2 separate regions of the Homo sapiens genome follow, and region 2 is linked to region 1. A link means that fine-mapping ties the variant in region 1 to the expression of a gene that starts in the linked region. Tissue or cell type: whole blood. Region 1 holds a variant in brackets; the other region holds the start of a gene. All regions are shown on one strand. Distances are between the middles of the regions. Region 1 has its middle 30 kb from the start of GOLPH3. Region 2 holds the start of GOLPH3 (golgi phosphoprotein 3).

Region 1 (16,439 bases):
GCCTCCTGGGCTCAAACGATCCTCCTGCTTCATCCTCCCGAGTACCAGGGACTATAGGCATGCACCACCATCCCTGGCTCATCTTTGCATTTTTTTGTAGAGATGGAGTTTCACCATGTTGCCCAGGCTGGTCTCGAACTTCTGGACTCAAGCGATTCACCTGCCTTGGCCTCTTAAAGTGCTGGGATTACAGGTGTGAGCCACTGCGCTCAGCCACAGCTTATGTCTTGATTTCCCCAACTGACATGAAACATACTCTCTGACATCCTTTTTTCCTTTGCCTTTAACTGTTTCTTTTTTTTTTCTTTTTTTGGAGATGGAGTCTTGCTCTGTCTCCCAGGCTGGAGTGCAATGGCACTATCTCGGCTCATTGCAACCTCCACCTCCCGGGTTCAAGCGATTCTCCTGCCTTAGCTTCCTGAGTAGTTGGGATTACAGGCGCCCGCCACCACGCCCAGCTAACTTTTTTGTATTTTTAGTAGACACAGGGTTTCACCATGTTGGTCAGGCTGGTCTCAAACTCCTGACCTCAGGTGATCCGCCCACCTCGTCCTCCCAAAGTGCTGGGATTACAGGTGTGAGCCAACACTCCCAGCCTCCTTTAACTGTTTCTTTAGTGACTTCTCCTAAGGAACTTTAGAATGGCTACTCACTAAGGAAACAGAATACCCTAGTGGCAGGAAAATTAAGATTCCGAAGCTGAGGTTAAGTAAGACCTAGAATTTGAGACGAGCAATTGGAAAGCAATTTCACTCTCCCAAAGAGTTTCTTAATGAAAGTGGCCTTGAAATAGGTTTACCATTCTTGGTAACTCTACTATTTTTAGTTCCTTGGGTAAAGTTAATACTCGGTTATATTATAGGCTTTTAAAATAAAAGAAGGCCAGGCGGGGTGGCTCACGCCTGTAACCCCAGCACTTTGGGAGGCTGAGGCAGGCTGATCTGAGGTCGCGAGTTCAAGACCAGCCTGGCCAACATGGTGAAACCCTGCCTGTACTAAAAATAACAAAAATTAGCCAGGCGTGGTGGCAGGCTTCTGTTATCCCAGCTGCTCGGGAGGCTGAGGCAGGAGAATTGCTTGAACCAGGGAAGCAGAGGTTGCAGAGAGCTGAGATGGTGCCACTGCACTCCAGCCTGGGCGACAGAGCGAGACTCCATCTCAAAAAAATAAAAAATAAAAAATAAAATAAAAAAATGAAAGAAAGGAAGGCTTATAACACAAATGTAGAAAGTTTCCATTAGAATTAGTCATCTCTCACTATAGACAGCCACCCTGGAGACAACATGGAAGCATCATTGATTCTTTTTTTTTTTTCTTGAGACGAAGTTTTGCTGTTGTCGCCCAGGCTGGAGTGCAGTGACGTGATCCCAGCTCACTGCAACCTCCACCTCCCAGGTTCAAGCGATTCTCCTGCCTCAGCCTCCCGAGTAGCTGGGTTTACAGGTGCATGCCACCATGCCCGGCTAATTTTTGTATTTTTAGTAGAGACGGGATGTCACCATGTTGGCCAGGCTGGTCTTGAACTCCGGACCTCAGATGATTCAACTGCCTCGGCCTCCAAAAGTGCTGGGATTACAGGCGTGAGCCACCACGCCCGGCCCATCATTGATTCTTTTATCCTATTAGCCTCTGCTAATACATTTTGCCTGATTATACTAATGGGTACCTCATGACCTGGAAATTTTAATATCTTTTCCAAAGGTCGTTACCCACTTTGAGGTAATATAGCCTTAGCTAAGTCTGAAATCATAGCTCTTTTCAGCCTTTTGGTCTGTCCTGTCAGTTTTATTTTTATTTATTTATTTGTCTCAGTAAAAGGGGAAAGGGGAGAAATGAGTAGGTTTGCTTTCTGCAAAGGCCAGATCACTGGGCAAAGAGGAACATAAATGTCAGATGGGCCTTACACACTGAATTGTATTGCACCTGACATGTTAGTAAAACAGTGGCAATTCTTCCAGCTACATCAAAGACACACCCACCAGTCTGAGATGTGCTCCCACTCTTAACCAAGCTCTTAAGGGGCTGGGGTGTCAATTCTATTCCAGTTACCACTGACCTGACATCTCCCACTTGTTCCTCATGAGAAAAGTTTATTTTCTTTCTTTTGGAGATGGAGTATCCCTCTGTCACCCAGGCTAGAGTGCACTGGTGCAAACTTGGCTCACTGCAACCTCCGCCTCCCCCGGTACAAGCAATTCTCCTGCCTCAGCCTCCGGAGTAGCTGGGACTACAAGCATGCGCTACCATGCCCGGCTAATGTTTTTTGTATTTTTAGTAGACACGGGGGTTTCACCATGTTGGCCAGGCTGGTTTTGAACTCCTGAGCTCAGGCAATCCACCCGCCTCAGCCTCCCAAAATACTAGGATTACAGGCGTGAGCCACCACGCCCAGACAAAAAGTTTCTTTTCAATGGTGGTTTGTGTGTTCATTGACAGGCATCTTTCAGATTGCCTAACTTCAAAAATAAAAGAATGTTTTTGGTTTGCAATAGAAAAATAAGCCTATAAAGGCTATTAGAATTTGAACTAAGAGTTGAACCTTAAGACAGGGATGATATGAAATTACGATCTAGAAAGATGAGATTGAAGAGATCAGTTCTTTGGCTGATGGGATTTAAATGACTGAAATAGACAAGATGAAGTACCAGTGTCCAGCCCCCGTGGTCTCTCCACTGTGCTATTTCATCAGGAGTAAAGTAGGGAGAGTAACAAAGTGGCGTGATGGAAGCAGGGAGGTCCCTCCATCTTTCATTTCTGAAACTTATTACCATCCTTTACTTCCCTCCCTGTCCCCTTCCATGAAACATGCTCATAACACTCCACAATTATCACTTTTGTTTTTCTCCTACCCCAGGTAAATTATTTCCATGGAAGTAGCTCAGTTATGTGCGTGTGTGTGTGTGTGTGTGTGTTTACAGGTGGTTATTAGGACTTACAATTCTACCAGTGGTATAGAGAGTTTTAGTTGCTCGCCATTCTTTTTTTTTTTTTTTTTTTTTTTTGAGAAGGAGTCTCACTCTGTCGCCAGGCTGGAGTGCAGGGGCACGATCTCGGCTCACTGCAACCTCTGCCTCCTAGGTTCAAGCAATTCTCCTTCCTCAGCCTCCCAAGTAGCTGGGATTACAGGCACCCGCCACCAGGCCCGGCTAATTTTTGTATATTTAGTAGAGATAGGGTTTCACCGTTTTGGCCAGGCTGGTCTCGAACTCCTGACCTCAGGTGATCCGCCCGCCTTGGCCTCCCAAAGTGCTGGGATTACAGGTGTGAGCCACCGCGCCCAGCCGTTGCTCTCCATTCTTGCCGACAACTGGTATTGCTGGCTAAACATGTTTTACATATTTGTGTAAATATATAAAATATGTGGAGTGTTATGAGCATGTTTCATGGAAACATGAAGGCACTGTCTCATTGTGGTTTTAATTTTCATTTCCTTGATGATTAATAATGTTGAGCACATTTTCTTTGCTTATAAATATGCATACATTTTTAACCCAGCAATTACATTTCTGGGACTTTACCCAGAAGAAATACACACACACACACACACACACACACACACACACACACACAGAGAAACTGGGAATATCCAACAATTGTATTTTGGTGAAATATATTATTTTTGGTGCATTCATACTGGGAAGTATTACAGTTGCCTAATGATGACCATCACCATTAATATCTCAAGGTGGTTAACTCTAAGTGATAGAACAACAAGTGATTTTTAATATGTTCTTAGCTTTTATTTTCTGAATTTTTCATAGTGATTATATATTGCTTTTATATTCAGAAGAAATGGCAAGGGATACTTCTACTTTATTTTGGAACAAATGAAAAATACAATCTTAACCTGACAGAATACCAACAATTCAATCATGAGCAATGTTTTTTGGGGGTCAATGAGTTCCTCATTTAAAATGCAAGAGGTGTGCCCATGTCTTTCTAAGTCCTATTCTATCTTTAAAAAAAATTGGGACTCCTTGGAAGAATGGCTGGATACGGGGCTGGGGCAGGAAAAGCACAAGGTTAGCCAGGAACACAGGAACATTCTGATATGCCAGAAAGTAAGAAAGTGAGAAGGAAGGAAGGAAGAAGCAAGGAAGGGAGGGAGGGAGGGAGGGGAGGGGAGGGGAGTGGAGTTGGGAGGGGGGAAGGAGGGAAGGGGAGGGGAGGGGAGGAGAAGGAAGGGGAAGGGAAGGAAAATATCGGGACATGTCAAAAGGACAAGAGCTAGTTTGAAGGAGAAGGAGAGCCCGCTGGCCAAGTCTGGGATAATTTTGAGCTAAAAATAAATCAGGACAGTAAAGGATTACAACTTATTGAATAAAACATTAATCATCAGGCCAGGCGCGGTGACTCACACCTGTAATCCCAGCACTTTGGGAGGCCGAGGCGGGTGGATCACGAGGTCAGGAGTTCAAGACTAACCTGACCAGCACCGTGAAATCCCATCTCTGCTAAAAAAAATACAAAAAAATTAGCCGGGCGTGGTGACACATGCCTGTAATCCCAGCTACTTCGGAGGCTGAGGCAGAAGAATCGCTTGAACCCAGGAGGCAGAGGTTGCACTGAGCCGAGAACGCGCCACTGCACTCCAGCCTGGCAACAGAGCGAGACTCCGTCTCAAAAAAAAAAAAAAAAAATTAATCATCAATTCAGGCAGCTGATAAGTAGGTAAATAAATAGATGGAGGTAGTAAGGGAGGGCTTTCCTTATAGTGAGATGTACATTAGATTGATACATGTGGAGGGAGGGATGGAGTTGAAAAATCACTGTTTTGCTATCATCAAAGCAAAAAATTGGGCAAGAAATAGCATTGATTGCTAAATCTAGGGAGATAAAGTCTGATGAAAGACAGGATATTTAGTCAGTCCTAACGTGGCTCTCCACAGATTACTTATTAGTTGCAAAAGAAAAATAGTAACTTATCAGTGAAGAAACTGGACAATACTGGGATCAGGTGACTAAAATTAACCCAGGGACAGATTGACACACTGTGCCTCCAGGTACCCTGAAAAGAATATAACATCACTTTTTTCATAGTTTGGCAGGGGACCAAAAACCTGAATTAAGTCACGAGGAAACACCAGGCAAGCCCAACTGAAGAACATTCTATAAAACAACCGATTTGTGTTCTTTAAATATATCAATGTCATGAAAGAGAAAGAAATTCTGAAGAACCATTCCAGATTAAAGAAGATTAGAGAAACATGACCCCTTCAGGCATATATGTGATCCTTGGTTGAAACTTGGACTGGGGGGATGCTGTAAAGAACTTTATTGGTATAATTGACAAAATTGGAATATGGATTATAGAGTAGGTGAAAGTACGTATCAAGGTTAAATTTTCTGATTTGATAATTGTATTTGGATTATGTAAGAAACTATATTTGTTCTTAGGAACTACACATTGAAGTATTAAGAGTATAATAAAGGCATGATCTTTATAACCTCAAATGGTTTGGAAAAAATAAATACAGAGGGAGGGAAGAAGAGAGAATAATTAAACAAATGTGGCAAAATGTAAAAAAGTTGGTTAATCTGGACTGGGCGCGGTGGCTCATGCCTGTAATCCCAGCACTTTAGGAGGTCAATGCAGGTAGATCACGAGGTCAGGAGATTGAGACCATCCTGGCTAACATGGTGAAACCCCGTCTCTACTAAAAATACAAAAACAAAGTTAGCCAGGCGTGGTGGCGAGCACCTGTAGTCCCAGCTATTCGGGAGGCTGAGGTGAGAGAGTGGTGTGAACCCTTGAGGCAGAGCTTGCAGTGAGCGGAGATTGTGCCACTGCACTCCAGCCTGGGCGACAGAGCGAGACTCCATCTCAAAAAAAAAAAAAAAAAAAATTTGGTTAATCTGAATCATGGCTATATGAGAGTTCTCTATTATTTTTGCAACTTTTCTTTACGTTTGGAATTATTCAAAATCATGCCCGGCCTAAAATTTAATTTTTATTTGCTCCCAACCATTTGATTTTGCCCTCCAAAGAGCAGCTACACTTATGACTAAGACTTTTTGTTTTATTTCATGAACACCAATGTTAGTTCAAGAGAAATCATTCCAGTAGATGAGATCAGTTGTTGGGTGGAAATGTGTGTTTAGAAATACTGATGATACTTTAGGGAAATATCCACCCAGCATTGCACCAAGTCCACACATGGTCCAAATAGAACTAGGGAAGAAATCCTAATCTGAATTTTTTAACCTCTTATATAATGAACATTTCATGGTATAATTTATGGTTTTCCAACCACATTTCAGCTTGTATGACTAAGTAAAGCCTGCCAGTTTATTATCCAGAATACAAAGTTAGGTGTGCAAAAACATAATCTTGTGTGTCTATAATTAGACTTTATTTATTTATTTTTCTTTTTTTGAGATAGAGTCTGGCTCTGTCACCCAGGCTGGAGTGCAATGGCAAGATCTCGGCTTTGCAGCCTCCGCCTCCTGGGTTCAAGCAATTCTCCCACCTCAGCCTCCAGAGCAGTTGAGACTACAGGCACACTACACCATGCTCAGCTAATTTTTGTATTTTTAGTAGAGATGGGGTTTCACCATGTTGGCCAGGTTGGTCTCGAACTCCCAACCTCAAGTGATCCACCCGCCTCGGCCTCCTAAAGTGCTGGGATTATAGGCATGAGCCACCGCACCCAGCCTTTAATTTCTATCTAAAGCCTTCACTCTGCTTTTGTATGAAAACTTAATTTTAGTCAATTTGGGTGAAACTGTCAATTCAGGATGTTTTCAGTCATTTCCGGGTTTTCCCACTTCTTTCTAGCGTCCCATATAGGCTTTAAGGGGAGATCCTCTTAAACCATACTAAGACGTGGCATGAGAAAGGAGCTTTGTAGTGAATTCCTATAATTTTACTTTGCATTCATTTTGAACACAAGTGGACTTCCCCATACCAGAGGCAAGGTTTAGTCACCCTTGACACAGTTTCCCATTTTCTTTTTTTTTTTTGAGACAGAGGCTCGTTCTGTCACCCAGGCTGGAGTGCAGTGGCCTGATCTCAGGTCACTACAAGCTCTGCCTCCCGGGTTCATGCCATTCTCCTGCCTCAGCCTCCCAAGTAGCTGGTACTACAGGCGCCCACCACCATGCCCGGCTAACTTTTTTTGTATTTTTTAGTAGAGACAGGGTTTCACCGTGTTAGCCAGGATGGCCTCGATCTCCTGACCTCGTGATCTGCCCGCCTCGGCTTCCCAAAGTGCTGGGATTACAGGCGTGAGCCACTGCGCCCGGCCAGTTTCCCATTTTCTGCCTCTGCCCAGTTCCTCAATGCAATGGATCCAGATGTCTGCCTTATGCAACCACTACCTGGTGACCACTCCCTCCCAGGGACAACAGGATACAACCCACTTCATTGGTCCCACTGATCCCCGCACTGCACTTTGTACATATGCTGCAGTCCCATTGTGACTCCGGAGATCTGCCACCTGCTTGCTGTTAACCTGCCAGGTAGAACTCCCTGCAGGAAACTCACCTGAGGAACATCCTGGAGCCCAAACCCACAGGTTTCTCTGTCTGTCTATTGCTCCCCACTTGTTGATGGAGCGCACATGTCCCAAGATAGCACCCTCCTTCCATTAGCCCTGTGTGTGAGGCAGTCACCCGCTTCCCTCTGGGATCTGTAAGTCATAAACTACTTCTGTTATTTCATATGTTTCATTGAGATGTCGCTTTTACATCTCACCTAACTGCCACGCAGAACCCAGCTCCTTTCCCGGCCAGGGCTCTCCTAGGGAGTGGTGGTCTTGGCAGGAATAAACTGGACAGAGGTCAGACAAGAGCCGCAAGTGTGTCTGCCAGGATAAACAAGTCTATCCTGTGAGAGGGACAGCTGATAGAGAGTTGGACACAGGCATCAGGTCAGCTGCTAAAATTGAGAGGAGTCCCCTAAAAGGCACATCATAAACATCGTGATCAAATCTCCTGAAGACCTGTCAGGGCTCGGCTAGTTTACAGCCACTCTCTGGAGGAAGACCTCAGGACCAGATGAGAGAAAAGTAGAAGGCGGCTCTCTCCTGGCCTTTGCGGTTGCGTGTCCCCGTCCTGCACAAGACCCTTTGGATTCCTTGACCCTCTCTCC[G/A]CTCCTCCAGACCACTCTTGGGGGTATGGAAACCATCATCTTGCTCTTCTCCCCTGCCACTCTAGACCACCTCGGACTTCTCTTATGATATGCCCCCCGGCCCTGCCACCCCATCATCTACCCTACCAGCCCTTTCCATGGTGTGTGGGGAATTCTACGAAATGTGCTCTTTTGGGGGCTACCAATGGGGAGTGAGACATAGGTCTCCTCTACTCAGATTCCCAAGTCAACATTATGGGTTGCAGGGCAGGAATGCTGACATTCCTCTGCACATATTCAGGGGACTCAGGGGCAGTCCCAGGGAGCAAGGGGCTCTGCCTCTGCCCTGCTCTCCACAGACTCTTCTTCCCAGAGGAGCTTTAGTAAAGGGAGGTGGGGGAAAGGGAACAAGGAGTCCTTCAGGGCCCTGCTCTGCTCTTAATACTTGCAGTGCCTTATGCTGAGCTCACGCCTGTAATCTCAGCACTTTGGGAGGCCGAGGTGGGTGGATCACCTGAGGTCAGGAGTTCAAGACCAGCCTAGCCAACATGGAGAAATCCCATCTCTATTAAAAATACAAAAATTAGCCAGGCATGGTGGGCACCTGTACTCCCAGTTACTTGGGAGGCTGAGGCAGGAGGATCGCTTGAACCCAGGAGGTGGAGGTTGCAGTGGAGCCGAGATGACTCCACTGCACTCCAGCCTGTGCAACAGAGTGAGACTCCATCTTAAAAACAAAACAAAGCAAAACAAAACAAAAAATACTTGTAGTGTCTTTTATGATGGTGTACAAATTAAAAGCATTACACAGGAAAGAAATCACATCCATTAACTTTTTTTTTTTTTTTTTTTTTTTGAGACAGAATCTTGCTTTGTTGCCCAGGCTGGAGTGCAACGGCATGATCTCCACTCACTGCAACCTCCGCCTCCTGGGTTCAAGCAATTCTCCTACCTCAGCCTCCGAAGTAGCTAGGATTACAGCTGTCTGCCACCATGCCCTGCTAAACTTTTTTGTATATTTAGTAAAGACTGGTTTTACCATGTTGGCCAGGCTGGTCTTGAACTCCTGACCTCAGGTGACCTACCCATCTTGGCCTCCCAAAGTGCTGGGATTACAGGCATGAGCCACTGTCCCTGGCCACATTAACTATTTAAAATACCCATGACTGAGTTTTTCCAAAGTTGGAATCAGAGGAAGCACGGTTTCTCTTCTGTGTAAACTTTAAGGTGTTAGTCTGTCCAGCACTTGGAAGGGAGGGTGTTTGCTACATGAACTTTCACCGCATGGTGCAGTGTTCCTAGGGTAGATTCTGCAAACTGGTTCACCCAGTGTGCCTCTCTGACCTTCTCCTAACATGCAGCTAACCTCATAGCACTAACTGTATGCTGCACACTATTTTGTTTGAAGCTTTTTTTTTTTTGACACAGGGTCTCACTCTGTTGCACAGGCTGGAGTGCAGGGGTGCAATCACAGCTCGCTGCAGCCTCTGCCTCCCGGGTTCAAGCAATCCTCCCACCTCAACCTCCTGAGTAGCTGGAACTATAGGCGTGTGCCACCACGCCCAGCTAATTTTTTGAATTTTTTGTAGAGGCAAGGTTTTGCCACGTTGCCCAGGCTAACTTTAAATGTATTAATTCATGTTATCCTCATAAAATCCCTATGAGGTACATACCACTATTATCCCCATTCTCCAGATGGAGAAACTGAGGTAAAGAGAGATTAATTAATTTCCCAGAGTTATAGTTAGAAAGTCACAAAGCCAGGATTGGAACCTAGGTAGTCTGGGGTCCGAGTTTATGCTATTGATAACTACAATATGCTACTATGATCAAAAACATCTGTGTTAGCTGAAAATGGAGGAAATCCATTTTTCCTAAACAATTACAGATATAGGCTCAGAATCTTTTTTTTTTTTTAAGGCAGAATCTCACTCTGTCACCCATGCCGAGTGCAGTGGTGTGATCATGCCGCACTGCAAACTCAACCTCCCTGGGCTGAAGCCTCCCACATAGCTGGAAATAACTACAGGCCAGCTAATATTTTATTTTTTGTACAGACGGGTCTCACTATGTTGGCCGGGATGATCTTGAACTCCTAGACTCCAATGATCCTCCCGCCTCAGTCTCCCAAAGTGCTGGGATTATAGGCGTGAGCCACCATGCCTAGTGACTCATATTTTATTTAACAATTCTGTTGACAGAACAAAAATAATTTTCAATGCACACCCATTTCCTTAAAAAGAACCTTGTTTCCAAAAGAATCATGAAAAATAAAATAAAAATAGATTACATTCTGTATTAGGAAACCCTTGGTGATCTACTAAGGACTGTGGCAAAATTACCTGCCACCAGATGTGTAGGCACAGCTCTGCTAGATCTTTCCACTTTAAATTTCGCTTTCAGCTTAGTCTCCAGCTCAGCAAGAAGTAACCTTCCTTCATGAAATTTACATCTTCTCAACGTGAGGCGGCTGCTGACTAAGTGTTTTAGCCAACTGTTCTACATAACAAATTACCCCCCAAATTTAGTAGTTTAAAACAACCAAACAATTTTTATGATCTCACAGTTTCTGTGGGACAGTTTTTGTAAGGCGGGATGGCCTAACCAGATCCTCTGGCTCCAGATCTCTTACAAAACGGCAGTCAAGGTTTGGTGTGGGGCTGTAGACCAGGTTTCTGGCTCACTGTTCAAATGGGGGAGGATCCATTTCTGAGCTCATTCGTGCGGCCATTGGGAGGCCTGAGGCCCTCAATGGCTGTCAGCCGGAGACATCACTTTCATGCCACATTGACTTCTCCATAGGGCAGCTCTACAAAATGACAGCTTCCCTTTCTCAAACCAAGGGCTCCACAAAAGGGAAAGAGGTATCACAGTCTTCTGTGATCTAATCACTTGCGCCATGTCCTGTTTGTTGGAAGCAAGTGACTAGGTTCACCCATACACAAGGAGAGAAGATTACACAGCCATGAACCCTGGGAGCCATGTTAGAGGCTGTCTGCCCTACCGAGTAATTTTTTTCTTCCTGTTAATTAGCATTTTTGGAGCAGCCGCCTGCCTTGGCCTCCCAAAGTGCCGAGATTGCAGCCTCTGCCCGGCCGCCACCGCGTCTGGGAAGTGAGGAGTGTCTCTGCCTGGCCGCCCATCGTCTGGGATGTGAGGAGCCCCTCTGCCTGGCTGCCCAGTCTGGAAAGTGAGGAGCGTCTCCGCCCGGCCGCCATCCCATCTAGGAAGTGAGGAGCGCCTCTTCCCAGCCGCCATCACATCTAGGAAGTGAGGAGCGTCTCTGCCCGGCCGCCCATCGTCTGAGATGTGGGGAGCGCCTCTGCCCCGCCGCCCCATCTGGGATGTGAGGAGCGCCTCTGCCCTGCCGAGACCCCGTCTGGGAGGTGAGGAGTGTCTCTGCCCGGCCGCCCCGTCTGAGAAGTGAGGAGACCCTCTGCCTGGCAACCACCCCGTCTGAGAAGTGAGGAGCCCCTCCGCCCGGCAGCTGCCCCGTCTGAGAAGTGAGGAGCCTCTCCGCCCGGCAGCCACCCCATCTGGGAAGTGAGGAGCGTCTCCGCCCGGCAGCCACCCCGTCCGGGAGGGAGGTGGGGGGGGGTCAGCCCCCCGCCCGGCCAGCCGCCCCATCCGGGAGGGAGGTGGGGGGGTCAGCCCCCCGCCCGGCCAGCCGTGCCGTCCGGGAGGGAGGTGGGGGGGTCAGCCCCCCGCCCGGCCAGCCGCCCCGTCCGGGAGGTGAGGGGCGCCTCTGCCCGGCCGCCCCTACTGGGAAGTGAGGAGCCCCTCAGCCCGGCCAGCCACCCCGTCCGGGAGGGAGATGGGGGGGTCAGCCCCCCCACCCGGCCAGCCGCCCCGTCCGGGAGGGAGGTGGGGGGGTCAGCCCCCCGCCTGGCCAGCCGCCCCGTCCGGGAGGGAGGTGGGGGGGTCAGCCCTCCGCCCGGCCAGCCGCCCCGTCTGGGAGGTGAGGGGCGCCTCTGCCCGGCCGCCCCTACTGGGAAGTGAGGAGCCCCTCTGCCCGGCCAGCCGACCCGTCCGGGAGGGAGGTGGGGGTGTCGGCCCCCTGCCCGGCCAGCCGCCCCGTCCGGGAGGGAGGTGGGGGGGTCGGCTCCCCACCCGGCCAGCCGCCCCGTCCGGGAGGGAGGTGGTGGGGGGTCAGCCCCCCTGCCCGGCCAGCCGCCCCGTCCGGGAGGTGAGGGGCGCCTCTGCCCGGCCGCCCCTACTGGGAAGTGAGGAGCCCCTCTGCCCGGCCAGCCGCCCGGTCCGGGAGGGAGGTGGGGGTGTCGGCCCCCCGCCCGGCCAGCCGCCCGTCCGGGAGGGAGGTGGGGGGGGGGTCAGCCCCCCTGCCCGGCCAGCCGCCCCGTCCGGGAGGTGAGGGGCGCCTCTGCCCGGCCGCCCCTACTGGGAAGTGAGGAGCCGCTCTGCCCGGCCAGCCGCCCCGTCCGGGAGGGAGGTGGTGGGGGGGTCAGCCCCCCCGCCCGGCCAGCCGCCCCGTCTGGGAGGTGAGGGGCGCCTCTGCCCGGCCGCCCCTACTGGGAAGTGAGGAGCCCTTCTGCCCGGCCACCACCCCGTCTGGGAGGTGTGCCCAACAGCTCATTGAGAACGGGCCATGATGACAATGGCGGCTTTGTGGAATAGAAAGGCGGGAAAGGTGGGGAAAAGATTGAGAAATCGGATGGTTGCCGTGTCTGTGTAGAAAGAAGTAGACATGGGAGACTTTTCATTTTGTTCTGCACTAAGAAAAATTCCTCTGCCTTGGGATCCTGTTGATCTGTGACCTTACCCCCAACCCTGTGCTCTCTGAAACATGTGCTGTGTCCACTCAGGGTTAAATGGATTAAGGGCGGTGCAAGATGTGCTTGGTTAAACAGATGCTTGAAGGCAGCATGCTCGTTAAGAGTCATCACCAATCCCTAATCTCAAGTAATCAGGGACACAAACACTGTGGAAGGCCGCAGGGTCCTCTGCCTAGGAAAACCAGAGACCTTTGTTCACTTGTTTATCTGCTGACCTTCCCTCCACTATTGTCCCATGACCCTGCCAAATCCCCCTCTGTGAGAAACACCCAAGAATTATCAATAAAAAAATAAATTAAAAAAAAAAAAAATTAGCATTTTTGCCATCCTGGTTTGTTTTTTCTTTGATGCAGGGTCTTGCTCTGTTGCCCAGCTGGAGTGCAGGGGCGTGATCACAGCTTACTGCAGCCTTGACCTCCCGGGCTCAAGCAATCCTCCTGCCTCAGCCTCCTGAGTAGCTGGTTCTGTAGGCATGCACCACTTTGCCCAGCTATTTTTTAAATTTTTTGTAGAGATGAGATCTCCCTGTGTTGCCCAGACTGGTCTCAAACTCCCGGGTCAGGTGATCCTCCTCCCTTGACCTCTGAAAGTTCTGGGATTACAGGTGTGAGCCACCACGCCTGGTCTCCATCCTGTTGTAATAAAATGTTATAATAAAAAGAAACCCCATCTCTACTAAAAATACATACGTGGAGGTATGTGTTCAGGTATTTGGACTCCCAGATGAACAATCTGTAACATTTGGAGGTAGGAGGCTCCCTTTGTTTGGAATATGCCTACCCCCCTCCGGTATACCTTTGCCCTGCCTATGATCTGTGAGTTAGAGTTAATTATGCATGAAAAGAGACTGAAGAGACTCAGTGGGTGTCCAGGTCTAGGAAATGCAGCTGAATAGAGCAGCAGTGCTGTGGGACCACCAGGTCCACTGTGCTTCCAAGACTTTGTTCTGAATAGTCTTGGGGCCCAAGCTCGGTGTGGAGAGGGTGAATGAAGGATGGGTGGTTTGGGCAGGGGAGAAGAAATGCACTTGGCACGAAAACTGCTGAGAGGACATTCCGTGAACCCCCTGGGGGGGGTGGCTTGGCAAGTCATTTCACCCCTCTGGGCTTGAGTTTATCCTCTCTAAAATGACATGGTTGAAGAAGATACTCTCTACATTTTGTGACTAGTAGAGAGAATTTGTGAGACCACTAATTAAGAATGAGTGTATTATCCAGCCTGGCCAACATGGTGGAAACCTATCTCTACTAAAAATAGAAAAATTAGCCAGGCATGGTGGTGCACAACTGTAATCCCAGCTACCCGGGAGGCTGAGGCAGGAGGATCACTTGAACCCAGGAGGTGGAGGTTGCAGTGAGCTGAGATCGAGCCACTGCACTCCAGCCTGGGTGACAGGGAGAGACTCCATCTCAAAAAAAAAAAAAAAGTATGAGTTTAGGTGTTTAAAAATGAGAGGTAGAAATAAATGCTGATTTACAATGTTATACACAATTTATAAGATTTTAAAGATTTTTTTTCTAATTTTGATAAAGTTCCATGTTGTTGTGAAGACTATTGCTTTGTAAATAGTGTGGGGGGTACGTGTGTGTGTGTGGACAGTACATGTACTCTTCTGTACACACACGCACATGCACACCACACATGATTACCATGGAAGCCGCCATGTCAGTGCGCCATGATTCTGCCCGTGTGCAGGTGACTGCCTCAGGGCTGTGTACTTATCCCAGCTGAGACACTCTCAATCCTTACTCTGGAGATTTAGATCTGAAAGTCCCAGGGTTATAAATTTTTAAGTCAGGGGCTTTAGGATGCACATTTTCCCTCACTTGGACCAGAGAAAACTGATCCAGAGAGAAAGTGGGGAGGAAACAGAGTAAACAAACTGAGAGGAGCCCCTGAGATGGAGAAAGAACGTAGGCAGCATTTGCATTTCTGGTTCCAGTAACTGGGGAGGCCCTGCTATTTCCTGTCATTGAGTTTCTGAGATAGAACAGGATCCTTATGACAACTTCCCCCTTTGGTTAAAGCACAATCAATTTGGGTTTCTCTCTTTCGCAACCAAAGGGAAAAAAATCAATAGCTAACTCACAAGTTCATTGTAGGGAAAAAGTTCAATTAAAAAATATATAAAGAGGCCGAGTGTGGTGGCACATGCCAGTAATCCCAGCACTTTGGGAGGCTGAGGCGAGTGGATCACTTGAGGTCAGGAGTTTGAGACCAGCCTGGCCAACATGGAGAACCCCATCTCTACTAAAAATACAAAAATTAGCTGGGTGTGGTGGCAGGTGCCTGTAGTCCCAGCTACTCAGGAAGCTGCAACAGAAGAATAGCTTGAAACCGGGAGTCAGAGGTTGCAGTGGGCTGAGATTAAGCCACTGCACTCCAGCCTGGGTGACAGAGCGAGACTCCAACTCAAATAAATAAATATATATATATATATATATAACCCCAAATATATGAACATCTAATGTGTCAATAAAAATAAAATAATATATAAAAAGGAGAAAAAAATGACCAATAAATCCATTGCTTTGAGATAACTTATCTTAACATTTGGGAATGTTTTCCTGCTACTTTTCCATGCATTTATGTAAATTAAACTAGAATTTTGACTTTTTTTTTTTTTTTTTTTTTGGAGACAGAGTCTCACTCTGTGGCCCAGGCTGGAGTGCTGGAGTGCAGTGGCATGATCTCGGCTCACTGCAACCTCCACCTCCCGAGTTCAAGCAATTCTCCTCCCTCAGCCTCCCAAGTAGCTGGGACTACAGGTGCCCACCACCAGGCCTGGCTAATTTTTTGTATTTTTAGTAGAGACAGGGTTTCACTGTGTTGCCCAGGCTGGTCTTGAACTCCTGAGCTCAGGCAATCCACCCGCCTCGGCCTCCCAACGTGCTAGGATTGCAGGTGTGAGCCACAGCATCCGGCCATGATTTTTAAATTCATACTTTTTTCACTGAATATATTGTGGCAAGACATACTATTTGATTGCACAACAGGGTGACTATAGCCAATAATAACTTAATCGCACATTTTTAAATGAGTCTAATTGGATTGTTTGTAACACAAAGGATAACTGTTTGAGGGGATGGATAGCCCATTCTCCATGATGTGCTTATTTCACATTGCATGCCTGTATCAGAACATCTCAGCCGTGTGCGGTGGCTCATGCCTGTAATCCCAGCACTTTGGGAAGCCGAGGTGGGTGAATCACGAGGTCAGGAGATGGAGACCATGCTGGCTAACACGGTGAAACCCTGTCTCTACTAAAAATACAAAAAATTAGTTGGGCGTGGTGGTGGGCACCTGTAGTCCCAGCTACTCTGGAGGCTGAGGCAGGAGAATCACTTGAACTCGGGAGGTGGAGCTTGCAGTGAGCAGAGATCGCATCACTGCACTCCAGCCTGGGCAACAGAGTGAGACTCTGTCTCAAAAAAAAAAAAAAAGAAAAAAAAGAATATCTCATGTACTCCACAAATATATATACCTACTGTGTACCCACAAACATTTTTTAATGTAAAAAAAAGAAAATATTATGGACATTTTCTTATGTCAGTTAATATACCTCACAATATGATTTT
Region 2 (16,439 bases), 30 kb before region 1:
AAAACCTCAAAATGTACTAGATTACATTGTAATACTGTACAATGCTATTAAAACAGGTTGCAGTCTTCCCAGCTTTGATAAGAGAAACCTGAAGCCAAAAACATCAATTTCAAAATGAAGCCAGGTTTCCACTTTTGGCACTTGTCAGGACACTTACTAAAAAGCAGCAGCATGGCCGGGCACAGTGGCTCATGCCCAGACCTTTGGGAAGGCGAGGTGGGCGGATCACTTGAGGTCAAGAGTTCGAGACCAGCCTGGCCAACATGGTGAAACCCCATCTCTACTAAAAATACAAAAATTAGCTGGGCATGGTGGCAGGCGCCTGTAATCCTAGCTACTTGGGAGGCTGAGGCAGGAGAATCACTTGAACCCAGGAGGCGGAGTTGCAGTGGGCCAAGACGGTGCCATTGCACTTCAGCCCGAGTGATAAAAGCAAGACTCCATCTTAAAAAAAAAAAAAAAGCAGGAGGAGGACAAGCACTGTCTTTTTGTGCTGCTTCAAAGGGAGACTCACAACATGAAGATAAATCCTCTAAACAAAGACTACAGCATAGTTTTATACTATTTAATCTGATTAATGGCAGTAGAAAAGTTATGCTGTTAGAAGGGGGGGGGAGTTTGCAAAGACATAAAAAAGTGTACAGCCAAAAGCTTAACATTATGTACCAGAACAAGCATAATGCCTGATGCCTCCAGGGTATTTAAGATTTACATGTAAGATGATATTATAAAAGTGTATTTCTTTAAATATCAAAAAAATCCCCCAAATATTTCAAAATCTATCAAAATAACTTCAAAATACAATTCTTTTGTTTTGTTTTGTCTTTTGAGATGGAGTTCCACTCTTGTCGCCCAGGCTGGAGTGCAGTGGCGCAATCTTGGCTCACTGCAACCTCCGCCTCTCAGGTTCAAGTGATTCTCCTGCCTCAGCCTCCCGAGTAGCTGGGATTACAGGTGCTCGCCACCATGTCTGGCTAATTTTTATATTTTTAATAGAGACAGGGGTTCACCATGTTGGCCAGGCTTGTCTTGAACTCCTGACCTCAGGTGATCCATCCACCTCGGCTTCCCAAAGTACTGGGATTACAGGTGTGAGCCACCGCACCCAGCCTTCAAAATACAATTCTAAAACGTAATTCAAATGCTCCATACAAGAACTCTCAGGTAGTCCAAAATTAACAAATATCAAATATTAGTATAACTTATGAGATGAGTTAGTGAATATTTTGACCATATTGTAAAAGAATCCCAAAGCACTAAAAAGTAATTTCAACAGTATAAAATCTTGTTGAAAAGGTATAATAAGCAGACCAGGCGTGGTGGCTCACACCTGTAATCCCAGAACTTTGGGAGGCCAAGGCGGGAAGATTGCTTGAGGCCAGGAGTTCGAGACTAGGCAACATAGTGAGACCACGTCTCTACAAAAAAAAATTTTTTTTTTTAATTAGCTGGGCATGATAGGGTGCGCCTATAGTCCCAGCTATTCAGGAGACTGAGGAGGGAGGATTGCTTGAGTTCAGGAGGTCGAGGTTGCAATGAGCCATGATCACACCACCACACTCCAGTCTGGAAGACAAAGCTAGGCCCTGTCTCAAAAGAAAAAAAGTACAATCAAATAGTTTAATGAACTTCAAAAGTAATTTCTGAGATCCTGTATATCTCATACCTGTGTTTAAACACCTGAAAAAAATAGATAAAAATTCAAAACTTCAAAAAATATGAAGGAAATATCATTTGTCTTAGAAACAACGAAAATTCATTAAAAACTCAGAAGCCTTTATTATATTTTAAATTACTAAAACTCAGCACATCTGGAAATTCTGAATACTTGTTGACTGAATTTCTGATTTACAGATTTGATATGTAGAGATGGTGGACATCACCACACGTATAGAAAGGAAAACAATTTTTGTTAAGTTATACATCTTCATCACTATTATACTTCAAAGTAGTGACCTTGGGAACCTTATTCCAAAAATGGAAAACATCTTTGGAGCCTGTGTAAAAGCCACACAAAAGTCAGTTCTATCATTTTGGTTAATCTTAAGTATTTTACCCCATTACATATTATTTACCTCAAGTACCTACTTATTTTTCAAGACATAGAGTTAAGTTACTGTATTACAGTTCTTGTCTACAAGCATTAGAAACATTAGTAACTGACTCTGGCTATCTTTAAAAAGCAACTTTACTGGAAGGCTGTTGAAACTCACAACACTGAAAGATGACTGGAAAATCAGACTGGAAAAAAACAGTGCCAACAGACCAGAGAAAGCAGCTCAAAGAACCATGCCAAAGAACAGTCTGATCCACACGCTGACATGACTCTGGAAAGGTCTCCAAAAAACCCTACAGCTCGTTATTCTCTCAAGATCCAAAGCCCTGAAAGAAAACATATGATTGGACAAGTCTGGCTGCATGACAAAACAGCAGGGGAATAATATGCTTCAAGAGTGCATCCTAGAGCCGGTCGCAGTAATCCCAACACTTTGGGAGGCTGAGGCGGGAGGATCACTTGAGGCCAGGAGTTCGAGGCTGCAGTGAGCTATGATCTCGCCACTGTACTCTAGCCTGGCGACACAGCACAATCTGTCTTAAAACAAAAACCAAAAAACACAACAACAAAAAAAAAAACAGGTGCGGTGGCTCATGCCTCTAATACCTGCACTTTGGGAGACTGAAGCGGGAGGATCACTTGATCCCAGGAGTTCAAGACCAGCCTGAGCCATGTGGTGAAATCCCTGTCTTTATAAAAAAAAAATTTTTTTTTAATTAGCTGGGCATGGTGGTGTGTGCCTGTGGTCCTAGCTCCTCGGGAAGCTGAGGCAGGAGGATCACTTTAGCCCAAGAGGTTGAGGCTGCAGTGAGCCAAGATCGCACCACTGCACTCCAGCCTGGGTGACAAAGAAAGACCCTGTCTCAAAAACAGGCAACACACTATGGGGAAACCCTAAAGTAATACAAAATAAAGCGAAGACCTGGGGAGGAGTTAATAAACATCCACAGCAGTACAATCAGAACCATCATATGGAATGACTACTTTTCCATTATACATGAAAACACTGAAGCTCAGAAGGCTTAAATTATATGTAAAAGCCAAAGAATACACTTTGGACAGGACTATAGAGCCTCTCTCTGCTTCTGCTGTTCCATAGGCATACTCCAAATTATACTTGGCCACTGAAAATAATTAAATCTAACCTTAAAAGACTAAGATTTGCCACCAATGAAGACATTCAAACATATATGACACCAGTTATTTGTGGTAATTCTCAATAAAGCATCCTGAAAATATTCTATGGAAAGCATCTATAGAATAAACACACACAGGGAAAGGAAAATACCTGGCACTTTTGCTGTCCCTCCCCCTCAAACACTGGGTCAATTAAAGAAATACTGCTAATTACTTGGCAGTTGAATTTAGGTGTAAACTATCTGCCATCCTTACTGTGGTCTTTAAAGAGTTACTTAAATACTTATGCACTGATTCTCTGCCCAAGTGAGCATGAAAATCTTCTGAGGGGACTAGCCATCCCTGTTTTATAAAAGCAAAAAACAAATATCATTGGTTAAAAAAAAAAAATCTGAAATGTGTAAAGAAAAAAAAAAAAATCAATCACAATGACTTTAGACTCACTCCTAACAGGTAATCTGAAGCCAGACCATCTGCTTATTCAAAAACTGAACCTTCTGTTCAGCAAAAAAGAGAGGGAGACTTGACTCAGAATATGTCAAAGTAATTTTTTAAATATTATAGATTATAAACATGTTAAAAATAAATTGGTAAGACAATAAGAACAAAGGACAATCTCACACGATATGGATGAATCTCACATTGAACAAAAAGCAGACACAAAGTACAAAAAACTAGGCAAAATTAATCTATGCTGAATTCTAATATTAAGCCAGTGGTTACCCCTGAGGAATGGGTAGTGACTGGAAAGATACTCAAGTGGAGGGCTAGGGCTTCTGTTTCTTGCTCTAGGTACTGGTTTAACAAGTATATTCACATAAGGTTATTAGCTCACATATATAAAATATTTCCAACATTAATGATTTGCTTAAATGTAAAGTTTAGCTTTTAAAGTTCTTAGGAGAATCCAGACATTAAAAAGATAAATGCTGAAGTAAAAATCAGTTAAAGCAATGAGTTAGCATAAACGCCTGGGCTCAGGGTAAGACAGCAATTCCTGCCTCCTAAAAAGAGTACTATAGGTTAAAAACATGGTGGCGAGCCTCCCAAGGGAAAAACATACCAACAGATAAGTTGACAGGGCTGGTTATTAGAGTGTAAAGACATGATGAGTTGGCTTGATGGCATGCACCTTGTATTCCCAGCTACTCAGGGCGGATCACTTGAGCCCAGGAGTTTGAGTGCAGCCTGGGCAACATCTTGAGACCTCCATCTCTTAAAAAAAAAAATTTTAAAGATGTGATGAAAGGAAAAAATATATAGGCTAATCCCTAAAACCAAAACCTAAAGCAATACAAAATCCCAGTAGTCTCAACCCCACCCCTCAACTCTCTGGACTTGCCTAAAAAAAAAGAGAAAAAATTTCCCCATGTGGTTGCTGAAATCAGGAAGAAATGCTCACAATAAGCTAGCAAGCATCTGGACCTTAGCCATGACTAGCAAAGTATAATGAGTGACTCTTGATGCAAAATAAACAGAACACATGGTTTCAATTACCCGCCAAATAACTTTAAATTGTTTAAATTATGTGAGTATGGTTAAACTTCAACAAATTATTTAGATTATCTTCTTAAGACCCAATCACCGAAAAACAGCATGTTAATATGCTTCACCTTAAACATTTAGAGCAAGGGTGTCCAACCTTTTGGCTTCCCTGGGCCACACTGGAAGAACTGTCTTGGGCCATATATAAAATACACTAACACTAGCAATAGCTGATGAGCTTTAAAAAAAAAAAATTGCAAAAAAAATTTCATAATGTTTTAAGAAAATTTACCAATTTATGTTGGGCCGCATTTAAAGCCATCCTGGGCCACATTTGGCCCGCGGGTTGGAAAAGCTTGATTTAGAGTAACATGTACTTGAAAAAACAAATAGGTATTTCCTCACTATAATTTCTCAGTGTGACTCAGAACACCAAAAGCTTATTTTTTAGTTTTTTTTTTTTCAGGTTTTTGTTTTCCACCGAGTTTTATCCACACGGAAAACTCTCAAAAACTATAAACCAAAATGTTCACTCAGGAATATGTTTTAATTTTGCTTTTCTTTTTTTTTGTATTTTCTAAAATGTCTATAATAATGTTATTTTTGTCCAAAAAGAAAAATGTTTATGGCCGGGCGTGGTGGCTCAAACCTGTAATCTCAGCACTTTGGGAGGCCGAGGCAAGTGGATCACTTGAGGTCAGGAGTTCAAAAGCAGCCTGACAAACATGGTGAAACCCCGTCTCTACTAAAAATAAAAACATTAGCAGGGCGTGGTGGTGCATGCCTGTAATCCCAGCTACTTGGGAGGCTGAGGCAGGAGAATCGCTTGAACCCGGGAGGGGGAGGTTGCAGTGAGCCCAGATGGCGCCACTGCACTCCAGGCCTGGGCGACAGAGCGAGATTCCGTCTAAAAAAAGAAAAAAAAAAAGACAAATGTTTATAATCAAGATTTCCAATTTTGAAACCTAAAGTTGAATATTTTCTAAAAATTACATTACTAGGACGCTATACCCCTAGTTTACTTTTTCATCCAAAGAACAAGGAACTGCACATACAGCCTGCTTTATCATCACAACTCAATAATTAAACAGGTACAGCAGCCCTTTCACAGCCAGAGGAACATCAACTTTTTTCAAGGTTACTGTTATTAAAACCTGAGAAATGGGAAACCAAGATATGGCAAATGCCCCAGACGTATCTATCAAGCTAACCGTTAGTTCATTAGATTTCTAAATAAGAAAGGTCCATAAACGGTCCATATAAAACTCGCCTATATCTAGTAAGTTTCAGTGACCAAGAAAGATTACGTTGTTTTGTAAGACTTTTTTTTTTTTTTTGCCCACCTTCCTGAATTTGGAAAACTTTCTTAAAATCAGGCCTGGGCGCGGTGGCTCAAGCTTGTAATTTCAGCACTTTGGGAGGCCGAGGCAGGCGGATCACTAGGTCAAGAGATCGAGACCATCCTGGCCAACATGGTGAAACCCCGTCTCTACTAAAGGTATGAAAATTAGCTGGGCATGGCGGCGCACGTCTGTAGTCCCGGCTACTCGGGAGGCTGAGGCAGGAAAATCGCTTGAACCCGGGAGGCGGAGTTTGCAGTGAGTGGAGATCGCGCCACTGCACTCCAGCCTGGGCGACAAACTGAGGCTCCGTCTCAAAAACAAAACAAAACAAAAACACAAAATTAGCCGGGCATGGTGGCGCATGCCTGCCTCAGGAGGCTGAGGCAGGAGAATCGCTTGAACCCGGGAGGCGGAGATTTCGGTAAGCCGAGATCGCGGCATTGCACTCCAGCCTGGGCAACAAGAGCGAAACTCCGTCTCCACATAAATAAATAATCATTTTTGTAGGCAAATATAACAAATACAGCAAAACGTCATAGAATCTAGAAAGAGTATATATGCATATGTATCTATCACTTTTTCAACTTTTCTGTGTGTGAAAATTTTGGACACTGAAGTGAAAATAAACGCTTTCAAAGTCAGAATACAAAGAATTATCTATTGCAACTTCAACCCACCTGAAGCTTTGAGGCCTCTGATCAACTCACAAACCTACATTTCAAGCACTCGATGAAAAAGCCCTTTCTTAAGACGGCAAGACTTTGAGATTCATCAACTGATAAAATATAAAAGCGATACTAAAAATAATCTCTCACCTAATGTAAGTTCACCTAGAAAGTCATTTACCAGGAGGTTTCATGAGAAACTTAACTTAACTTTACTCAGTAAAAGAGCTTTTCCCTCTATTACCACTTCGCCTACGTTTTTCGTAATTCCCAACAGTAAGCTTTAACTGAAGAAGAAGAAAAAAAAAACATCCCCAGCAAGCAGATCCGGGCACCCCTCCCAGGTCCTAAAGCCTGCAAAAACCCAAAGAGTTCGTGGCGCTGGTGGCTCCAGCTGTTAGTTTCCCGGGCAGTCTCCGGGTTGGATTTGCACCCTGGGGTCTACACGGGTTAAAAACGCGGAAAAAAGGCGACGAAGAAATACAAACTGCCAGGGTGTCGAAATGAAAGGAGCGACTGTGAAAGGGGTAAGGAAAAATCCAAGCCATCTCTACGGGGAGGATCCAGAAAGCACCAGCCGCGCCAGGGGGTCAACCAACTCCGACACCGCTCGGCGTCAGCTGGGCGCCACCAGGCGCGGACTTCGGAGCGAGGGCAGGTGCGCGGGCCGGAAGCCTCGGGCGCTCACCTGGCACCTACCTGGAGCTCACCTGGCGCCCGGGCCCCGCGCCGCCGCCCCCCGCCCAGCCCGCCGCGCCCGCACCTCGCGGTCCTTGAGGCCCAGCAGGAGCACTTCCTCCATCAGGGTCAGCCGCGTTTCCTTGGAGTCGCCCTTGTCGTCGTCGTCCTGCTCGTCGCGGCGGCTCTGCGCGTCGTCCTCGCTGCTGCCGGCGCCGCCGCCCGCCGCCCGCTCCTTGTCGGCGGCGTTGCGGGAGGCCTCGGTGCGCCGCTGCACCAGGCCGGAGCTGCGCTGGGTCAGCGAGGTCATGGCTCCCGCCGAGGCGCCGAGCCGGGCCGAGAGGGTCGCAGGACCGACCGGGTCGCCCTCCTCCTCCCCGCGCGGCCTCCGATCCGGGTTTCCGTGTTAAATCCGGACGCCGGGGCGACGTCCGTCGGCAGCAGGGCCGGGGGCAGTCATGAGGAAACAGGTCAGGGCGAAGCGGGCTGGCCGGGCGTCGGCGGGGCAGGAGAGGAGCGCCTTCCTGCCTGTGGCCGCAGTCCCCGAAACACCCCGAGCTCCAAGGCGGAGGCGGCGGCGGCGCCTTTCCAATATGGCGGCCCCGGCTGACGTCACCGGAGGATGTGGCAGAGTCGGCGCGGGAGAGCTGGGCCGGGAGGCGCCGGAAGCGGCGGCCGGGGATCCGCTGCCACTGCAGCCTACACCCTTCCCGGCCCTCGGTGCTTGTCTTTTCTTTGGCGTTCCTGCGCCCCCTGACCCGCGGTCCTGCAGTCCTGCTCCCGTGACGTGCCCTCCCTCCTTCCGTTCCCCGTTTCCCCTTCACTACCCAGGGCTGGAGCCTGAACCTGGCGGGGCCCCCCGTGAATGGAAGAGCCTGGGCCACGCGAAGGTGGACCCCACTCAGCCTCCAGCCGTGCCCTCCACGCCCCAGACACCGCCGTCTTCGGAGGCGACTCCGCGGTCGTGTGGACGGGGTCCCATTTGGACTCCGGGGTCTGCAGGATCGGCAGGAAGGACTTTGCTCTCTGCTGCTGGGCGGGGAGGGGTACGCTATCTGCCGGGACTCCCTAACCCTTTAGAAGGAGCAAGTGCGTCCAAATGGTTTGAAAGTGGACCTTTATTGTTTTCCAGGAGTAAGAAGATAGAACAGTTGACCAGTTTTGTTTGTAAAACTTCTTTCCTTGCCTCGGACTTGTGCTATAAAGTGACCAGGGCGTAGTGAGTACAGTTAGTACCGCACACGTTAGCACGCTCGACCTTAACGATCTTTTTATAGAGACAATAAACCTGCAGCGTTTCATGCCACGTCTTTGTACGCATCGGATGTCTCTCCGTGTAGTTACTAGGTGAAATCCTCTTGGCGTGCGCAAATTAGGTTAAAAAAATAGCTGTCAAACCTGAGACAGGAGTTGGAGGAGTAGAGGGTGGCGCTTGTTAAGTGAAACATTTAACCAGGAATGGTATTGTGTGCCATCCTGTATTAAACAATGTATGGACAGAGTGGAACAACAGCAAAGCAAAAAATAAAAATTTTTTAAAAAAAGTGATCATGGGCTGTGGCTAAAGAGTGCTTTAGATGGATTCTTCTCTTCCACAAATCCATTATCCAGAACTGCTGCTGCCTACCATCCCATGCCCTGGAAAGTGACAGTGCTAAATGAAGGGAAGAGAGGGTCCAGGGGGCACACCAAGTAGACCTTCCCTTTTTCCCACCTGTCTTGGTGAAGGTCGATTTCACCTCAACCAATTTCTCCCATTCACACCCTCTTTTTTTTTTTTTTTTTTTTTTTTTTGAGACGGAGTCTTGCTCTGTTGCCCAGGCTGGGGTGCAGTGGCACAATCTCGGCTCACTGCAAGCTCTGCCTCCCGGGTTCACGCCATTCTCCTGCCTCAGCCTCCTGAGTAGCTGGACTACAGGCGCCCGCCACCACGCCTGGCTAATTTTTTGTATTTTTAGTGGAGACGGGGTTTCACCGTGTTAGCCAGGATGGTCTCGATCACCTGACCTCGTGATCCGCCGGCCTTGGCCTCCCAAAGTGCTGGGATTACAGGCGTGAGCCACCGCGCCAGCCCACACCCTCTTTGGACCTTTTTTCTTCATCTTTTCTGATTTTACCAAATGTTGTAGCTTGAAATATTTCTTTGTAAAATAAATGTAATTAATTTATTATGTGAAAAAAGTTAATCAGGAGTAGTGGCCCACATCTGTAGTCCCAGGTCTTCGGGAGGCTGAGGCAGGAGAACCGCTTGAGCCCAGAATTTGAGGCTGCCATGAGGGTGATCGTGCCACTGCACACCAGCCTGAGAGACAGAGCAAGACCCTGTCTCAAAAAAAAAAAAAAAAAATTGGCTGGGCGCGTTGGCTCACGCCTGTAATCCTAGCACTTTGGAAGGCCAAGGCGGACGGATCAGGAGGTCAGGAGATCGAGACCATCCTGGCTAACACGGTGAAACCCCGTCTCTACTAAAAATACAAAAAATTAGCCGGGCGTGGTGGCGGGCCCCTGTAGTCCCAGCTACTCGGGAGGCTGAGGCAGGAGAATGGCGTGAACCCCGGAGGCGGAGCTTGCAGTGAGCAGAGATTGCGCCACTGCACTCCAGCCTGGGTGACAGAGCGAGACTCCGTCTCAAAAAAAAAAAAAAATTACTTGACTAATATAGTCAAGTATGTAGTTCAAAGAGTACAAAGATATGTGTAGTGAAAATCTCCCTCCCAGCTCTGCCCCTGTTCACCCAGTTGTTCTCCTTTCTCTCCTGAAGGTTTTAATGCCAACAAATCCTCTGATACTCCTCCCCTCAAAATGTGAAGCCTAATTTCCCTCCCCCTGAGTGTGGGCCAGACTTAGTGACTCTCTTGAAATGAATAGAATGTGGCCAACATGACTGTGTGGCACTTCTCAGGTCATGAAAGTCTATGCAGCTTTTTTCCTCCCCAGCTGCCCTCCACCCCCAGCCATCATGATGGGTGGGGGTGGAGGGCAGCTGGGGAAGAAGTGAGGGAGGAAGGAAGGAGATATTTTAAAAACAGGAAGAGGAAGAAAGGATATTTTAGGAAGGAAAAAAGAAGGAATTTTAGGAATGAGAATATTCCTAATTACAACAATGAGTGTTACTTTTTAAAAAATTTTTATTTATTTATTTATTTATTTTTGAGACAGAGTCTCATTCTGTCGCCCAGGCTGGAGTGCAGTGGCGTGATCTCGGCTCACTGCAACCTCCACCTCCAGGTTCAAGCAATTCCCCTGCCTCAGCCTGCCGAGTAGCTGGGATTACAGGCACATGCCACCACGCCCAGCTAATTTATTTATTTATTTATTTATTTATTTTTTTGAGACGGAGTTTTGTTGCCCAGGCTGGAGTGCAATGGCGCAATCTCGGCTCACCGCAACCTCTGCCTCCCAGGTTCAAGCGATTCTCCTGCCTCAGCCTCCCGAGTAACTGGGATTACAGGCATGTGTCACCACGCCTGGCTAATTTTGTATTTTTAGTAGAGACGGGGTTTCTCCATGTTGGTCAGGCTGGTCTCGAACTCCTGACCTCAGGTGATCTGCCCGCCTCGGCCTCCCAAAGTGCTGGGATTACAGGCGTGAGCCACCGCGCCTGGCACGCCCAGCTAATTTTTTTGTATTTTTAGTAGAGACGGGGTTTCACCATGTTGGCCAGACTGGTCTTGAACTCCTGACCTCAGGCAATCCAGCAGCCTCGGCCTCCCAAAGTGCCGGGATTACAGGCATGAGCCACCGCGCCTGGCCTTGATTGTTTGTTTATTGCCTGCTGAGATGTGCCAGGCGCGGTCTCCAGCAACCCCCACCAGGACCCTGCAGGTTAGGTGCTGCTGCTGTGCTGACCAGCTCCACATGGACTGCAACCATCTCATGCAGTGCGGTCTGGCAGCACCTCCATGCCTACCTACAAGTGTGGGAGAGTAAGCACTTCAAGCAGGTGGATAACAGGACCCCTTTCTTTCCTCACATGAACTGTCCTGAGATCGTTTATACAACTTCTCAGTAGCATTTAGCTCCAGCAAGCTCAACGACCCCTTCACTCCTCGCTTCCCTCCACTAGCTTCTGCTCCCAGCTGTTGCACTCCCTAATAAAGCACAAAAGACTTTGTCTTAGGCCCTGCTTCCTAGGGAACACAGATTAAGATGCCCATTTTACCTATGAAGAAACAGTTCAGAGAAGTTAAGTAATCTGCCCAACTTAACACTTCTGGAAAATCACAGACCTGGATTAGAACCCTGGTCCTTAATTCAGTATCAAACAAGTATATTTCTACATGTTTGCTGCATGCCAGGCATTGTCATAAGCAATAAAGATACAATACTAAGCCAAAAGAGACATAGCCATACTTTTCATGAAACTGACAGTTTAATGAAGGGCACAGATATTAAGCAAATCCTGATGCTAATTAATGTAGAAATGTAGAAATGCTTTGAAAGAAGGAATACAGTCCTATGAGATCATGTACTGTCATATATGTGAGAAACCTAAGTTTTTATCTGGGACTCAAAGCTGCTCTGAAGAAGTCATAAGCCAAAGAATGAACTGAAGTTAACCAAGTTGGAGGTAGAGGACATTCCTGAGAGGAAATATGCAAAGGCCCTGTAGCAAAAGACAGATCATGGGATGGAGGAGAACCAAGTAGAAGAGTTTTTACCTGGGCTGAGGGAGGGAGTGATGGCAAAAGCAATAGTTACAGACAAGGTCCAAATCATACAGTGCTGTCCATTTTAAGGCCATTTTAAGATTTGGGTCTTTTTTTTTTAGACAGGGTCTCGCTCTGTTGCCCAGGCTGGAGTGCAGTGGCGCAATTTTGGCTCTGCCTCCTGGGTTCAAGCGATCCTCCCACCTCAGCCTCCCAAGTAGCTGAGACTACAGGTGCATGCCACCACACTGCTGATTTTTGTTTTTTTGTGTGTTGTTTTTTTCTGTAGAGACAGGGTTTCACCATGTTGCCCAGGTCTTGAACTCTTGGGCTCAAGCGATCCGCCCGCCCTGACCTCCCGAAGTGCAGGGATTACAGGTGTGAGCCATCGTGCCTGGCCAAAATCTGGTCTTTATCCAACCAAACTCAATGGGAAGCTATCAAGGGTACTTTTAAATGCCCTCCGTGGGGGAAGAGGAGATGGGTGGGTGAGAGATGTTACCAGATTTGCATTTTGAAAAGCTTGCAGGATATACCCAAGGCATGGATATAGGATACAGAAGCAGCTCATTTTTGCAGTAGTCCTACAGAACCTGATGGTAAGTTCGACCACAATAGTGGAAGAAGAAAGGGTGGTAAGTGAATGTATTCAAGAGATAGTTAGTAAGTTAAACTGACACAACTCAATGAAAGACTGACTACGGAGTGTTGGGGCATAAAGGAGCGGAGATGTCGAGGATTACTCCCACTTCTGGCTTGTGTAGGAGAGGATGATATAGGGATCGCTGGGCAATGACCAGGTTTGCGTGAGTTTATTTCAGTTAAGCTTTTAAGAAGTATATAAAACTTCCAAGAGAATTTGTTGTGTAGGTAGTTCTATGTACAGAGTCTTTCTGGGTTTTTTTTATTGTTGTTTTTTGGTTTTGATTTTGCTTTGAGATGGAGTCTTGCTCTGTCACCATGCTGGAGTGCAGTGGCACGATCTTGGCTCGATGCAACCTCTGCCTCCTGGGTTCAAGTGATTCTCCTGCCTCAGCCTCCTGAGTAGCTGGGACTACAGGCACGCGCCACCACGCCCAGCTAATTTTTGTATTTTTAGTAGAGGTGGGATTTCACCATGTTGGCCAGGATGGTCTCAATCTCTTGACCTCGTGATCCACCTGCCTCGGCCTCTCAAAGTGCTGGGATTACAAGTGTGAGCCATCACACCCGGCCCAGAGTCTTTCTGTTTTAACCCAATAAAAATTTCAAAATGCCTAGAAAATGAAAGGCACCAGAAGAAAACTATGGGTAAATTCTTTTGTAATCAAGGAGAGAAGAAGCCTTTATTATCATGACTCAAAATCTGATTTTTAAAAATTTGAAATAAATTCACAGGAATTGCAAAATTAGTGCAGAGAGAGCTTGTATACCCTTAGTTTCCCCCAGTAGTAACATGTAACTATAGCACTATCAAAACCAGGAAATTAATATTGGTATGATCCACAGACATTATTCAGATTTCATGGGTTTTATGTGCATTGATTTATGTGTGTGTCATTCTATGCAATTGTACTACATGTAGATTTGTGTCAATACCACCACAATCAACATATAAAAATAAGCCAGGCATGGTGGCACACAACTGTAATTCCGGCACTTTGGGAGGCTGAAGCAGGAGGATTGCTTGAGCCCAGGAGTTGGAGACCAGCCTGGTCAACATAGCGAGACCCCGTCCCTACGGACTTTTTAAAAAAAATTAGCCAGGCATGGTGGCGATGCCTGTAGTCCCAGCTACCTGGAAGGCTGAGGCAAGAGGATCACTTGAGCCCAGGAATTTGAGGCTACAGTAAGCTCTGACTGTGCCACTGCTCTCCAGCCTAGGTCACAGAGTAATATCCTGTCTCTAAAAAACATAATAAACAAATAAAAAAAGATATAAAATTGTTCCATCATCACAGAGATCCCTCATGTTGCCCCTTTACAGTCATGGCAGCTCCAGCCCCTCTCCCGACTCTATCTCCGACTCCTGGCAACCACTACTTTGTTCTCCATCTATAATTTTGTCATTTGAGAATGTTATATAAATGGAATCATACATTATGAAGCCTTTTGAGATTTGCTTTTTTCACTCTGCATAATTCCCTTGAGATCTGTCCAAATTGCATACACCAATAGTTTGTTCCTTTTTATTGCTGAGTGGTAATTCATGGTACTCAGGTACCATATTTGTTTAACCATGGATCCATTGAAGGACTTTCCGGTTGTTTCCAATTTGGGGCTATCACAAATAAAACTGCGATGAACGTTCATGTACATGTTTTTATTTGTTTGTTGTTGTTGTTGTTGTTTTGAGACTGAGTCTTGCTCTGTCACTCAGGCCGGAGTGCAGTGGCACGATCTCAGCTCACCGCACCCTCCGCTTCCCGGGTTCAAGCAATTCTCTTGCCTCAGCCTGCCGAGTAGCTAGGATTACAGGCACGTGCCACCATGCCTTGCTAATTTTTGTGTTTTTAGTAGAGATGGGGTTTCACCATGTTGACCAGGCTGGTCTCGAACTCCTGACCTCAAGTGATTCGCCTACTCAGTCTCCCAAAGTGGTGGGATAACAGGCGTGAGCCACTGCGCCTGGCCTATGTTTTTATTTGGATGTAGTTTTCATTTCTCTGAGATGAACACCCAGGAGTGCAATTGGATCATATGGTAATTATATGTGTTTAATTTGTTTGTTTGTTTGTTTTAAGAAACTGAGATCCAGTCTGTACCTGGATCTAAAACAGAGAAAAAAAAAGGAAACTGGGAAATTGTTTTCCAGAGTGGCTGCATCATTTTACATTTCCACACTAGCTTTATTCTGAAACACAGCAGCATTATTGAACTAACTAGCAAATCTTCCAGAGGCTTTCAACAATCTTCTTTTTAAAAAAATCTGCTGCAAATATTTATTAAGCATGTATATATTCCAGAGAAGGCTGTAAATGTTTTCAGGTTGCTATGGTTTGAATATTTGTGCCTCCAAAACTCATGTTGAAATGTAAGCCCCAATGTAGTAGTATTGAGAGGTACAGCTTTTAAGAGGTGACTGGGTCATGATGGTTCTGCCCTCATGAATGGATTAATCCATTTACAGATTAATGGATTAATGGGTTATCATGGGAGTGGGACTGGTGACTTTGTAACAAGGGGAAGAGAGACCTAAGCTAGGAGTACTGTAATTAGCCCATTTTATGAAAAGAGAAACAGGCACGGAAAGATTCAAGATTTTGCCCAGGGTTACACAGCCTGGCTCTGGAGTCCATGTTCTTAACCAGGACCTGATAATAACTTAATGATTTTAGGGCCAAAACAACTACACAATGAGGTCCTTGTGGTAAAAGACATAAAAGTCTGAGGCAAATACAAAGACTAAATTTTATTTTATTTTTGAGTAAGTAATAAATTCATGTACTTCAAAATCAAAACAGATAAAAGGCCTGTACAGAGAAGTTCTACATTGGCCCATGTCCGTTGATTGTAGCCTTAATTTTAAGATAGTCCCATGATTCTTATCCCCGGCATTTACATTTTTCTCTAGTCCCTTCTTCCTGAGTGTGGGCAGAACTTCTGTCTTGCTTTTAACTAATAGAATGTGGCAAAAGGTGAAAGAATGTTGCAGATGTAATTAAGTCCCCTAATAGGTGGGGCACGATGGCTCTCGCCTGTAATCCCAGCACTTTGGGAGGTCAAGCCTGGCGGATCACGAGGTCAGGAGATTGAGACCATCCTGGGTAACACGGTGAAACCTCATCTCTACTAAAAATACAAAAAATTAGCCGGGCGTGGTGGCAGGTGCCTGTAGTCCCAGCTACTAGGAAGGCTGAGGCAGGAGAATGGCGTGAACCTGGGAGGCAGAGCTTGCAGTGAGCTGAGATCGCACCACTGCACTCCGGCCTGGGTGACAGAGCTAGACTCCATCTCAAAAAAAAAAGGCCCCTAATAAATTCATATTGAGTTCATCAAAAGAGAAACTCTCCTGGGTGCTATAGTTTGAATGTTTGTCCCCTCCGAGTCTCATGTTGAAAATTTGATTTCTGGCTGGGCACGGTGGCTCATGCCTATAATCCCAGCACTTTGGGAGGCTGAGGTGGGCAGATCACTTGAGCCCAGGAGTTCAAGACCAGCCTGGGCAACATGGTGAAACCCTCTCTCTACCAAAAAATCAAAAAATTAGTGAGGCATGGTGGTGTGTGCCTGTAGTTCCAGCTACTTGGGAGGCTGAGATGGGAGGATCACCCGAGCTCAGGGACATCAAGGTTGCAGTGAGCCATAATCATTCCACTGCAGTCCACTCCAGCCTGGGCAACAGAGTGAGATCCTGTCTCAAAAAAAAAAAAAAAAAGAAGAAAGAAAAGAAATTTGAAATTTGATCCTCAATGTTGGAGGATCAAACAGAGGGCCTAAGGCCCTC

The links. PIP is the estimated chance that this variant, and not a neighbour inherited with it, causes the effect.
Region 2: it holds the start of GOLPH3, and the variant in region 1 is fine-mapped to the expression of GOLPH3 in whole blood (TOPMed, PIP above 0.99).

What each region holds. Positions count from the first base shown.
Region 1 is chr5:32,196,488-32,212,926 of GRCh38, forward strand. No RefSeq gene overlaps it. Among named protein-coding and RNA genes, the nearest start is that of GOLPH3, 30 kb to the left of the region's middle. RefSeq lists a silencer at 15,118-15,277. The variant G/A (reference allele first, on the strand shown) is at 8,093.
Region 2 is chr5:32,166,361-32,182,799 of GRCh38, forward strand. GOLPH3 (golgi phosphoprotein 3) reads right to left here and starts at 7,959. Exons shown (of 4, transcript NM_022130.4): 1 at 7,450-7,959. The coding sequence starts at 7,674. RefSeq lists a silencer at 7,243-7,852.